3 linked regions of the Homo sapiens genome follow. The protein of the gene in region 1 purifies or fractionates together with the protein of each later gene. This does not show direct contact. Each region holds a gene or a part of one and is shown in the gene's direction. Other genes may lie near its edges. The genes, in order: GDF3, PPP4R1 and VPS39.

Region 1 (4,393 bases):
GGGGAAAAAGACACACTGAAGATACTTAGGCAAAGAGACACAGTTCTGATCCTCAAGGTGTGAGTTGTCTGAAAAGGAAGGAGGCAAACACAGTAAAATGCACTGCAGAAACTGTAATGGAGGGCCGGGTGCAGTGGCTCACACCTATAATCCCAACACTTTGGGAGGCCGAGGTGGGTGGATTACCTGAGGTCAGGAGTTTGAGACCAGCCTGACCGACATGGAGAAACCCCGTCTCTACTAAAAATACAAAAGTAGCCGGGCATGGTAGCGCATGCCTGTAATCCCAGCTACTAGGGAGGCTGAGGCAGGAGAATTGCTTGAACCTGGGAGGCAGAGGTTGTGGTGAGCTGAGATCGTGCCATTGCACTGCAGCCAGGGCAACAAGAGCGAAACTCCGTCTCAAAAAAAACAAAAAAACAAAAAAACTGTAATGGATGCCCAAGTATGGCTCAGTGGGAGAAAGAAGTATCTCAATCTATTTTGGTGAGTCGAAACTGTGGAAGTAGAGGTGACCTTTGAACTTGGTCTGTGTAAAGGCTCTGAGATGAAATGAGCTCACAGAGCTACAAATAGGTCAATGTAATTAGAGCATCCACACTAAGGATGGTGGGTGGTGAGAAACAAGGCTGGCGGCTGGGTGTAGTGGCTCATGCCTACAATCCCAGCACTTTGGGAGGCCGAGGTGGGAAGACTGCTTGAGACCAGGAGTTCAAGACCAGTCTGGACAACATGGCAAGGCCCCATCTCTGTAAAAAATAAAACAATTAGCTGGAAGTGGTGCCCTATGCCTGTAGTCTCAACTACTCCAGAGGCTGAGGTGGGATGATCTCTTGAGCTCAGGGGGTCGAGGCTTGCAGTGAGCCAAGATCAGGCCACTGCACTCCAGCCTGGGCAACAGAGCGAGACCCTGTCTCAAAAATAAATAAATACATAAATAAAAATAAAAATAAAAATAAAATAATGAAATCTACTTGAGTATTTGTCTAATCCAGGGGTGTCCAATCTTTTGGCTTCCCTGGGTCACATTGGAAGAAGAAGAATTGTTTTGGGCCACACGTAAAATATACTAACACTAATGATAGCTGATGAGCTTAAAAAAATCACAAGAAAGTTTCATAATGTTTTACGGAAGTTTATGAATCTGTGTGGGGCTGCATTCAAAGCCATCGTGAGCCTCATGTGACCCTCCGGCCGCAGGTTGGACAAGCTTGGTCTATGTAGATGATTAATTACAAGTCTATGAATTATTCACTGCTCTATTCCTAGCACCTATCTCAGCACCGTGCACATAATAGATGCTTAGTAACTGTTTGTTAAATGAATAAATGCATGTCTCCTTTTCACTCTGTCTACTGCTGACAACCTCACATTGTTGTAGAATTTATGTCCATGCATTGGTAATCTTTGTTCTGTGAACTTTTTCCTGGAAGAGTAGAGCAAGAGAAGAGAAAAAAAAATTCCCTCTTCACATCCAATGGCCTTTGAGGAGCTGGGAAGAGAGCAATTCACACTTGATTATCTTACATCAGATAAATTAGCAGCCTCTGAATTGTTGGGCAGTCTGGCAGTGGAGCTCTCCCCGGTCTGACAGCCACTCCAGAGGCCATGCTTCGTTTCTTGCCAGATTTGGCTTTCAGCTTCCTGTTAATTCTGGCTTTGGGCCAGGCAGTCCAATTTCAAGAATATGTCTTTCTCCAATTTCTGGGCTTAGATAAGGCGCCTTCACCCCAGAAGTTCCAACCTGTGCCTTATATCTTGAAGAAAATTTTCCAGGATCGCGAGGCAGCAGCGACCACTGGGGTCTCCCGAGACTTATGCTACGTAAAGGAGCTGGGCGTCCGCGGGAATGTACTTCGCTTTCTCCCAGACCAAGGTAAGGAAATAGAGTGTTATCCAGAAAAACATCTGGAACTGGGTGGTGTGAAGAAAGGAAAGGACAATAGGAAATGACAATTACTGATGGCCTTGTGCTGGTATTTTTCATATTTTGTCTCATTTAATTCCAGCCACGATCCTGAGAGGAAGTTAGATATTCTTATCAAGTTCCTAACAGTAAGGAAATTAGGCTCAGACAGTAGGTAACCTGTAATCTATTCAAGATCATACAGCTAGTGTGTGAGAACAAAGTCAGGATTTGAAATAGGTTTTTGTTTTCTGAATCAACTGCTTTGTGCTTCAGTTGAGATGAAAGAGGTGAGGGAGGAATCAGAGCTCAGTCTCCCACCCTGCAGCCCATATATACACATCCTGCCGTCTTCCATGTGGCAAGCAGGGTATGAAAATTTTGAGGTTGGTTTGCCCAGGAGTCCTGCTTCCCTTATTTGTACCTCCTGGCTACTCTTGTTGGGTGGCAAAGGTTATTCTAGATTTGTGAATAGAGAGCAATAATATATACAACTGTCATATCCTTTTAAAAGGATCTCAGTGAGTGGGATCCAGTACTTTCCCAAACTGACCACCCACCAAATAACTTAGGTCTTCCATTAACAGTAGATCCTCCAACCCCATTCCTGCCCCTAGTTCTCCCCACCCAATTCTTATTCAAAGTCTGAAATGGGTGTTGAGAATCTGCATGTCTATACAACCTCCCGGGTGTTTCAGATGCAGAATTTAGAGCCTTGGTTAGTTTTACAGCAACTGGAGAGAAGATTTGAATATTTATTTGTCCAAGAAGCACTTATTGGATACCTATGGTGAGCCAGGAACTGTGTATGGCCTTGAGAATACAAGATAAAGTTTGCCTTTTTTTTTTTTTTTTTTTTTTGAGAGTCTCGCTCTGTCCCCCAGGCTGGAGTAGAGTGGCACTTTCTCAGCTCACTGCAACCTCCGCTTCCTGGGTTCAAGTGATTCTTCTGCCTCAGCTTCCCAAGTAGCTGGGATTACAGGCGTGTGTCACCAAGCCCAGCTAATTTTTTAATTTTTTAATTTTTTAGTAGAGACAGGGTTTCACTATATGTTGGCCAGGCTGGTCTTGAACTCCTGACTTCAGGTGATCCGCCTGCCTCAGCCTCCCAAACTGCTGGGATTACAGGCCTGAGCCACCGCACCCAGCCCAGAATTACCTTTTAAAAATGCGTATTGAGTCGTACTGCTCCTCCACGTAAAATTCTCGTCTGCAAAATTCTGCAAGAGTTGACCCACCATGCCCTGCCTGTTCTGACCCTGCTGCTTACTTCCCCAGTCTCACCTTTTACACCCTCTCCTTGCACACTCAACTCCAAGCTCATAGTAGTCTATTCCTTCTAGAGCATGCACTCTTGTCTCATCCTCACACGTGCTGTATCCAGGCTGCCTGAAGTACTCCCTCAGAATTTGCCTGGTCAAGTACTTCAGGCTTTTCTTCTTCTTCCTCTTGTTCTTCCTCTTTTTGTTTTTTCCCCTTGAGACAGGTCTTGCTGTGTCACCCAGGCTGGACTGCAGTGGCACAATCTCGGCTCACTGCAGCCTCCACCTCCTGGGCTCAAGCGATCTTCCCACCTCAGCCTGCCGAGTAGAGTAGTTGGAACTACAGGCTACAGGTGCACGCAACCACGCCAGGCTGATTTTTGTACTTTTTTATAGAGATGAGGTCTCACCATGAGGCTGGTCTCTAACTTCTGAGCTCAGGCAATGGCCTGCCTTGACCTCCCAAAGTGCTGGGATTATAGGCATGAGCCACCATGCCCAGCCAAATTTTGTTAGGTTTTGAATGATGCTTGAGAATGAAGAGGTGTGGTGGTGGGGTGCTTAAGAGTGTTTCGGTTTGAGTTGTAATTTCTCCCTAAGCTGAATGACCTCAGAAAATACCTACTTAAGGCTGGGCGTGGTGGCTCACACCTGTAATCCCAGCACTTTGGGAGGCCGAGGCAGGCAGATCACGAGGCCAGGAGTTCGAGACCAGCCTAGCCAACATGGTAAGGCCCTCCCCCCACTCCCCTGACCCCCGTCTCTACTAAAAATACCAAAAAAAAAAAAAAAAAAAATTAGCCAGGTGTGGTGGCGGGCGCCTGTAATTCCAGCTACTCTGGAGGCTGAGGCAGGAAAATCGATTGAACACCCGGGAGGCAGAGGTTGCTGTGAGCCAAGATCGCACCACTGCACTCCAGCCTGGGTGACAGAGCAAGACTCCATCTCGGGGAAAGAAAAAGAGAGAAAATACCTACTCAAGCGTGAAGTCATTCTACCAAACAAAATGATGGCATTAGAGGCCAAATGAGTTATTTGTGAAAAGGGAGAAATTGAAGATGCAAATAGTAAAAGTAGACTGTATTGGGCCTTTTCCTAGAGGAATAGGTAAAATTTGAAAATTCAGGCAGGAAAGTTAGCTTAGAAAACAGGGAGAGCACATTTGTAACTTCAGAAGAGGGGCATCCATGGACAAAAATCGAAGAATCACATTGTACTTCAATAT
Region 2 (3,646 bases), on another chromosome or scaffold:
CCCGCCCCATTAGTCTATTTGCCTAAGCGGGGCTTTGAAGAAAGAAAAGTTGCTGATTTCATTTTTAACTGAAACCATAACTTGTGTCCTCCTTTTGCTTCAAAAATATAAGCAATTGTCAGTGTTAACTTAGAAAATTCAGCATCCATGAGAAAAGCAGAGGCCTGTATGTTTACTTTTTTAAAAATTAGGTTTTTCTTCAAAACAGAAACACTCTATTTTGTTCATATCTGGCCAACTTCACATGGTACAACAGTATAATAGAAATTCCAGATATTGGTTTGTTGATAAGATTCTGAGCTTTGTAAAATACAGTATTATCTACTTAAAGGTATGTTAATTTCTCTGTTGATATCTGAAATCCTAGTAGACACATTCATACATATTTACTTTAATGTAGCTTTATTAATGCATAATAATAATGGGTATCAGAGTTCTAGTTAGGTCCGATACAATGACTTGTTACTGATAATCCATCATGTCTGTCTGTATTTCAGTCACTTGCATGTCTTCTATGAATTGCCTACTTGTATCCTTATTTTCTTTCTTATTATTTATTTGAACAGTGTGTTCACTTCCTAATACTCTGTTATACATGAATTTGCTCCCAGGCTGTTTTCCCTTTTAACTGAGTATTGGTATCTGTTATCTATAATAAAGTTTTTTTGTTTGTTTGTTTTTGAGACAGAGTCTTGCTCTGTTGCCCAGGGTGGAGTGCAGTGGCGCGATCTTGGCTCACTGCAACCTCCACCTCCCGTGTTCAAGTGATTCTACTGTCTCAGCCTCTGGAGTAGCTGGGATTACAGGCATGCACCACCACACCTGGCTCATTTTTGTATTTTTAGTAGAGACAGGGTTCACCATGTTGGCCAGGCTGGTCTGGAACTCCTGACCTCAAGTGATCTGCCCGCCTTGGCCTCTCAAAGTGCTGGGATTACAGGCACACCCAGCCTATAATAAAGTTTTTATAATGTATAATTAGTTGGTCTTACGGTTGATTTTTGGATTTTGTCTTCCCACCTCAAGATTGAACATTTAATATTATCTTTTAGTACTTTTGATCTTTATGATGTGCAGTAGGAACTTTTGTTCCGTGCTAACTAGCTGATTTTCCTACTGTTGCTTCTTAGACATTTCATCTTTTTGAAGCCCAGAAATTTGAAATGCCATATTTCTCACATTTAAATTTGCCATATGCACTTGGGTCTTTTCAGGTGTTTAAAAAATATTTGTCATCTTTAATTTTCATTTACCCATTTTTAGTCTTAGTTAAGTCTAATTATATATCTTTCATTTATTGACTAAGTTGAGATTAGGAACTAGTTTTTATGACTTGTCCTAGTAGGTTCTTAAATAGTGGAATTTATGGATAATACTATGTATGTGTCAGAGTATTGATGTAAATATCAGATAGGATATTTAACCCCTAGCACAGTGTGGCACAGTGTAGGTGATGAATAAATTTATTTATTGTTAAGAAATGGTTAGATACTCAGTGCATACTGTGAACAACAGAAGCTTGGATTGAAGATAAGGTCCTCCTTTCACTCATGGGATTGATCTGTGTATGATTCTGAAAAGGAATGCAGAATTAAAGGATGTTGTCTCAAGTCCTTTATATTTTGAAGATGAAAGTCCATAGCCTTCCTAAGTACCCTCAAGAACAGATAAAGGTTTTGTTGCTGCAGGAGAACATGTTTGCTCACATTGCCGTTATTTCAATAGAACCAACTGTGAGAGCGGAGCTGATGGAACAGGTGCCTCACATCGCACTGTTTTGTCAAGAAAACCGGCCTTCAATACCATATGCTTTTTCAAAATTCTTACTACCTATTGTGGTTAGATACCTTGCAGATCAGAATAATCAGGTAAGAGTACCATTTATATGTTCTTAAAAGAAATTTACGTAGTGTAATATATGGAGAATAGCCGAGCCTAAGTGTTCTCTTTGGAATGTTTTACTGTTTTTCAAAAATGAATATTTATCTTAGACAAGATGTGTTTAGAGTCTGACAAATCTAGTAGATCCCTTTAATGCCATTATGGACAATGCCTAGTAACTGCACTCTCACTTGGTAACCTCCTAGCGGTCCCTTAAAAGGTTTGTTACTTTGTGAGGCATCTTTTACCAGGATGGCTCTGTCCACTTCCTCTGTTACAGCACAATCTACGAAGTTCTGTAGTCTTTGTAATAGTTGAAGAAAATAAACACAAATATTTATTTGCGGAGTTTTGCCAGTTATGGGTCCCTTTGAGATGAGAAATCTTTGTTTATAAAAATCAAGTGATAGAATTTTGTCATGTTGCATATGTACTTTCTTTGTGTTGTTATTTTTCTCCTAGGTGAGGAAAACAAGTCAGGCAGCTTTGCTGGCTCTGTTGGAGCAGGAGCTCATTGAACGATTTGATGTGGAGACCAAAGTGTGCCCTGTCCTCATAGAGCTGACAGCCCCAGATAGCAATGATGATGTGAAAACAGAAGCTGTGGCTGTAAGTCAAATGCCATTTTTCCACTTATGCAAAATGTGGCTGATAAGAGGTGCTTATTAAAAGTCAGGCCGGGGTTAGGCACGGTGGCTCATGCCTGTAATTCCAGCACTTTGGGAGGCCGAGGTGGGTGGATCACTTGAGGTCAGGAGTTGGAGACCAGCCTGGGCAATATGGTGACACCTGGCTCTGCCAAAAAAATACAAAAATTAGCCAGGCATGGTGGTGTGCGCCTGTAGTCCCTGTTACTTGGGAGGCTGAGGCAGGAGAATCACTTGAACCTGGGAGGAGGTGGAGGTTGTAGTGAGCCAAGATCAGGCCACTGCACTTCAGCCTGGGCGACAGAGCAAGACTCCGCCTCAAGGAAAAAAAAAAAAATTAGGCTGGGCTGGGTGCAGTGGCTCATGCCTGTAATCCCAGCACTTTGGGAGGCCAAGGTGGGAGGATCACTTGAGACCAGGGGTTTGAGATCAGCCTGGCCAACATGGCAAAACCCCATCTCTACTAAAAATACAAAAAAAATTAGCCAGGTGTGGTGGCACATGCTTGTAATCCCAGCTACTCTGGAGGCTGAGGCACGAGAATCATTTGAACCTGGGAGACAGAGGTTACAGTGAGCCGAGGTCATTCCACTGCATTCCAGCCAGGTTGACAGAACAAGACTCTGTCTTAAAAAAACAAAACAAAAAAAAAAAAAGAAAGAAAGAAAGAAAGAAAAGGCTGCTTTCTGTTAAAGTTGCCACAAATCATTAAATTTGAAATACAATCAGGGCTAGAAAGGGACATAAAGGCTTACAAAGGAAAGTGTACCTTCTGCACACAATACGAAAAAATACATAATTGTAAATTATTATGTCAAAGTGGAAAACTGAAATGGTTATTTTATCAGTGCAGTTAAAATTTTAAAAACCCTGGACTGAACGAAGAAACACTTGAACCCCTTCAGTAGGTATTGAACACTTTTCTAGGCACTGTGTAAGCACAGTGGAAATAAAATAATACTTTGCTCCTGCTCTGACAGGTATGGTCTTTGTGGGAAGGATGGTCAGGCAAGTACATTTCCCAGGATATATGACATCAGTGATGGTTATCAGAAGAATATACAGATTGTTAAGTCATTACGCACATCATAAAGTCAAATGTAATAGGAAGTTTCTGG
Region 3 (4,428 bases), on another chromosome or scaffold:
TCCAGCACAACAGCTGGTAATTCTAAATTTTTAAGAAGGTGATCAGCTTCTATGGTGAAAATCAGCTATAACACAGGATTTGTGTAGCAATTTTCATGTTTTTGACTACTTGAAAGTACTTTTCACTTGATTATCAGAACAGCATTTGGTAAAGATGGGACAAGTATTCCTAATTTACATATGAAGAAACTGATATTGTGTAAAAATAAAATGACCAGGACCAGTTTTTTTGACTTCATATCACAGACTTACCCTTTTTCTTTTACATTTTTGCTTTAAACCCAAATGCTTAATTTTTTGACCTACGATGTTTTCCTAGGGGGAAATGACCAGATATAGATCATTCTTGCAGCCCAAACTTTGTTGTTTTTTAAGTCTTCAAGGGGAATACTAAGGTAACCGCAGACAGTACAGGTCCCAGGTCCTATAGGAGGAAAAGCCATGACACCTTCCTAAAGGAATATTAGGATGTAAGACACAGCTTTGGAAAGTTGAATTGGTAGGAATGTGGTCATCAAATTAAAAGGAGGCTTATTTCACTGACTTCCAAGAGTTAGTGAATCATCTCTTGCCTAAACTCTTGCTACTCAAAATGTGATCCAGGGACCAGCAACATCTGGGAGATTTTTGGTGCTCAACTGAGGGTCTTACTCTGGTCCTACTGAATCAAAAGAGGCATTTTAACAATGTCTCTAGGTGATTTGTATGCACGTTAAATTTGAAAAGCATTGGCCTCAAATGGTGGTTCTCAGGGTAATTTTGCCTCCCAGAGGACATACGGAAAAGAGACATTTTTATACCTCTGTGGGGAAGATAACTGGCATTTGGTGGGTGGAAGTTAGGGATGCTGTTAAACATCTTACATTGTACAGAACATGCCCCCTCCCCCAACAAGAAATTATCCTGTCCTAAATGCCGGTAGTGCTATCGCTGAACAACCCTAACCTAAAATGGTGGTTCTCAAGCTTTTAAGTGCATGGACTCACCTTGGGGTTTATTAAAACATAGGTTGCTGTTCCCTTCGAGTTTCAGATTCAGTAGAACTGGAATGGGCCTGAAACTTTGCATTTCTAACAAGTTCACAGGTGCTGCTGCTACTGCTGTTGTTGCTGGTCTAGAACCACTTTCAGAACCACTGGCCTAGAACAACCATGAAAGCATTAAGGTAAGGTGCTTGTACTAATTGGGATATAATGGTAATACTAAAGCTACCACTTACTGAGAGCTTAGTGGGTGTCAGGTGTTGCTAAGCGCTCACGACACTAGGTCACAGGTATTTACAAAAATTTTGCAGATTAGGAAAGTATGGCATCGAAATATTAAATTTTCTAAATCACAGCTAATTTCCTAATTGGTAGATCTCCGTCTGAGGTCGACGCCAAAGGCCGAGTTTTTAACCATCACGCCCACTGCCTAAAGCAGTTCTAAGATTAAGAGTTTGTTCCTTCTATGGTAAGCCCATGGCTACTCGGGATGGAGTAGCTATGGGTCCAGAGTGACGATGGCAACTCAGCAACAAAACAATTCATTTAGAGTGCACCGGGAGGAAGGGGCGGGACTTCGGCTGCGGAAGAGGCGGGCCTAACTAGCAGGAAGTCCGGGGTTGACGATGGCTGTGTTGTTGAAGGGCCTGTAGCCGGGGGGTTCCTGGCCGGATCCCGGTCTACCCTTAGCCCAGACTCGTTCCGGACCCCAGCCCGGCCCGGAACACTCTGGGCGAGACGGCGGTGGCAACTCTCCCCTTGCCGCCATGCACGACGCTTTCGAGCCAGTGCCGATCCTAGAAAAGCTGCCTCTGCAAATCGACTGTCTGGCTGCCTGGGGTGAGCCGAGGGGCCGCGGGGCCGAGGCGGAGTCAGCACAGGAGCGGTCCGGATCTTTTCTGAGGCCGGGGAAGTGGACAGGCGTCCATCCGTGTGGGCTTCGGTTGGATGCTACACGAGAGGGGCTTAGGATGAGAGAAGGCAGAGAGATGACCACCGGCTATAGACATCGATGTCTGTGGGGCTACTTGGGTGATCCCAGTGATCCAGTCATTTAGGGGAGTTCCCCTTGCTTTTGCTCTCTGTGCAGAGTGGGAGGATGAGCTTTCCTTTTTAGTTGTGCTCAGCTTTGGCCCATTTTGATTCCCACGAAGACTTCATTTTAGAGGGTCAAAGCAGTAAGAAGTTCTCAGCCTGCCAGGGGCTTGAAGTTGTCCAGATGTTTGTGTTGTTTTCTAGATGAAAGTCAACCCTGGTTTTGGGGGCATTGAACAAGTTAACACCATATGCTTTTTTTTCCCCTTAGTGATCATTCGTTCATTTCTCATTCCTGTAGGGAACTCATGTAGTTAGCTAACCTTTGAATCTAGCCAAGCGGTTGATTACCTTATATCCAAAGTGTCCAAGTTACCTAACTGTAGGCGGAAGAGTTTCCAGACTGTCTTGAAACCTAACCCATAAAAACTAGCATAGTCCTTTTGGGATTGACTAGTGCAGAAGGCCGGGACAGACATCTCTTGTGTGCTCTGAAATACAAATGAAGGTTTCAGGGATAACGGTGAACATTGTGCTCTTATCCGTGAGTGACTGGTTTGATACCAGCCGCCAAAGACCAAGGAAATCATTTCTAACTTTCCTCTTAATGTTTAGGTCCTAGAAATCAAGGACCATAAAAAGATGATTCAGATCCCTTAATCAGATCTTATACTGAGCTAGATAGGTAACCATGATGGGCCTTATGGAATCTTGGTGGTGTCTGATACCATGTGCGTCAGCTGTTCACAGTGTCACCGAGTCATCCTTGCAGAGTTCTTGATGACTTCTTCTGTAGGGTTCTTTCACGAAGAATTTTCATGTTAATGTGCACCCTTCCTCCTTTAGCAGCTCTGGGTCTCTTTAAAATCATACCTCCACAGTAAGCAGTTCTAGTCCTTTGGGTTAAGAGGAGAATCCTACTTCCTCCAGACATCTCAAGAAAACCAATTTCTGTCATTAAATGCTCTCATTAAACATTTAAATAGAGGAGGAGAAAAAGTTTTTAAATGAAAGACCTGACACTGCATGAAAGGATTAATTCCCCCATTGCTTCATCAGATATACTTATTAGGTGGCTACACGGGCCATTCTCTTTGCTTGGGACAGTAATACAATGATGAATAAGAAACAGTGCCTGTGCTCCTAGGACACACACTGGGGGACAAATACACGTGAACAGATTATAATACTAGAGACATATGCTGCCTATTATTGCAACATGGATGAGGGGGTACCCAACTCAGCTAAGGACATATGTTTCTGAAAGGGATTAATGCAGCTGTGGCTACACTTGACTTAGCTCGTCAGAATCCTTGACTCTGATCTCCTGTTGGACCATTAGCACATAGTGCTCCTAGACTCTCACCAACTCCACTTTGTCACAGTAAAGATTCCTTGCACCTGTGGTTTTCAGGAACACAGTTTTGAAACAATAGGTAGCTTTTGGCCTTCCTTGATCACCCACCGAACAGGAGAAATGCTCTTTGGTTCCTAAGGTGCTTAGGTACATATTAGGTTACAAGAGGCCATTAACTGCCTCCTGCTTCAAAAGTGCTTTATTTCCAGATTTGAGCAGCAGTAATTATTGCTCTTTCTAGTCATTACCCCTTTTTAACTACATTGTGCCTTTGGATGGAAAGTTCGTCCAGGAACTTCCAGAGGCAGGTCACACAGGGCCAAATAGTATTTGAGGTGTAAATGTCTTAGAGACAACATACTCTGTCTCCTGGGAAATAGAAATCAGGAGAGAACATGATGAGGATGATTTCTTTCTAAACTCCAAAGTTGTATAATCCTGCTGCCTTTTCAGCATCTTCATTTGGATGTCCAGTAGCATAGCCAAAACCGTTCTTGATTCCTCTCCCCTCAAACATGCCTGTCCTCCTGTATCTTACGTCTCAGCAAGTGGCATTTCTATTTACCTCTTTGACTAAAGCCAAAAGCTTTGGAATCGTTCTTGACTTCTTTCATTCTGTTTTACACTGTATCCCATCTATCAGCAAATCTTGTGTGTTCTACCCCTAGAATAAATCTGAAATCCAGTCATTTCTCTCTATCTTGATGATTACTACTCTTGAAGGCACCATCATCTGTCACCTGAATTACTGTAGTAGTCTTCTCATTGATCACCCTATATTTGCCAGTGTGCCATTTTCAGTTTTTTGTCTACCAGGTAGAGTGAAACTTTGAAAACCTAAATCTGATTCCATCCTCTACTCAAAACCCTCTCATGGTATCACATCACAACTAGAATAAGTTCCAAAGTTTTCACCCTGTCTGGCAACATCTGACATGATCAGGCCCTGATTTCTTCCCTGTCTTCTGTGTACTTACCTCTCACTCCTTTCTGGTACCAGTCCCACACAGCCTTCTTTGTTCCATCAATGCACAAAGCACATACCCACCTCAG

The links.
Region 2: the proteins of GDF3 (region 1) and PPP4R1 purify together in Homo sapiens (affinity purification with mass spectrometry; one large-scale study listed by BioGRID and IntAct). This does not show direct contact.
Region 3: the proteins of GDF3 (region 1) and VPS39 purify together in Homo sapiens (affinity purification with mass spectrometry; one large-scale study listed by BioGRID and IntAct). This does not show direct contact.

Annotation. Positions count from the first base shown.
Region 1 is NC_000012.12:7,692,944-7,697,336, reverse strand, and holds the start of GDF3 (growth/differentiation factor 3 preproprotein), read left to right. Parts: upstream 1-1,561; 5' UTR 1,562-1,608; coding exon 1,609-1,876; intron 1,877-4,393.
Region 2 is NC_000018.10:9,586,933-9,590,578, reverse strand, and holds part of PPP4R1 (serine/threonine-protein phosphatase 4 regulatory subunit 1), read left to right. Parts: intron 1-1,725; coding exon 1,726-1,868; intron 1,869-2,343; coding exon 2,344-2,490; intron 2,491-3,646. UniProt on the Homo sapiens protein: Regulatory subunit of serine/threonine-protein phosphatase 4. May play a role in regulation of cell division in renal glomeruli. The PPP4C-PPP4R1 PP4 complex may play a role in dephosphorylation and regulation of HDAC3.
Region 3 is NC_000015.10:42,205,476-42,209,903, reverse strand, and holds the start of VPS39 (vam6/Vps39-like protein), read left to right. Parts: upstream 1-1,599; 5' UTR 1,600-1,750; coding exon 1,751-1,823; intron 1,824-4,428. UniProt on the Homo sapiens protein: Regulator of TGF-beta/activin signaling, inhibiting SMAD3- and activating SMAD2-dependent transcription.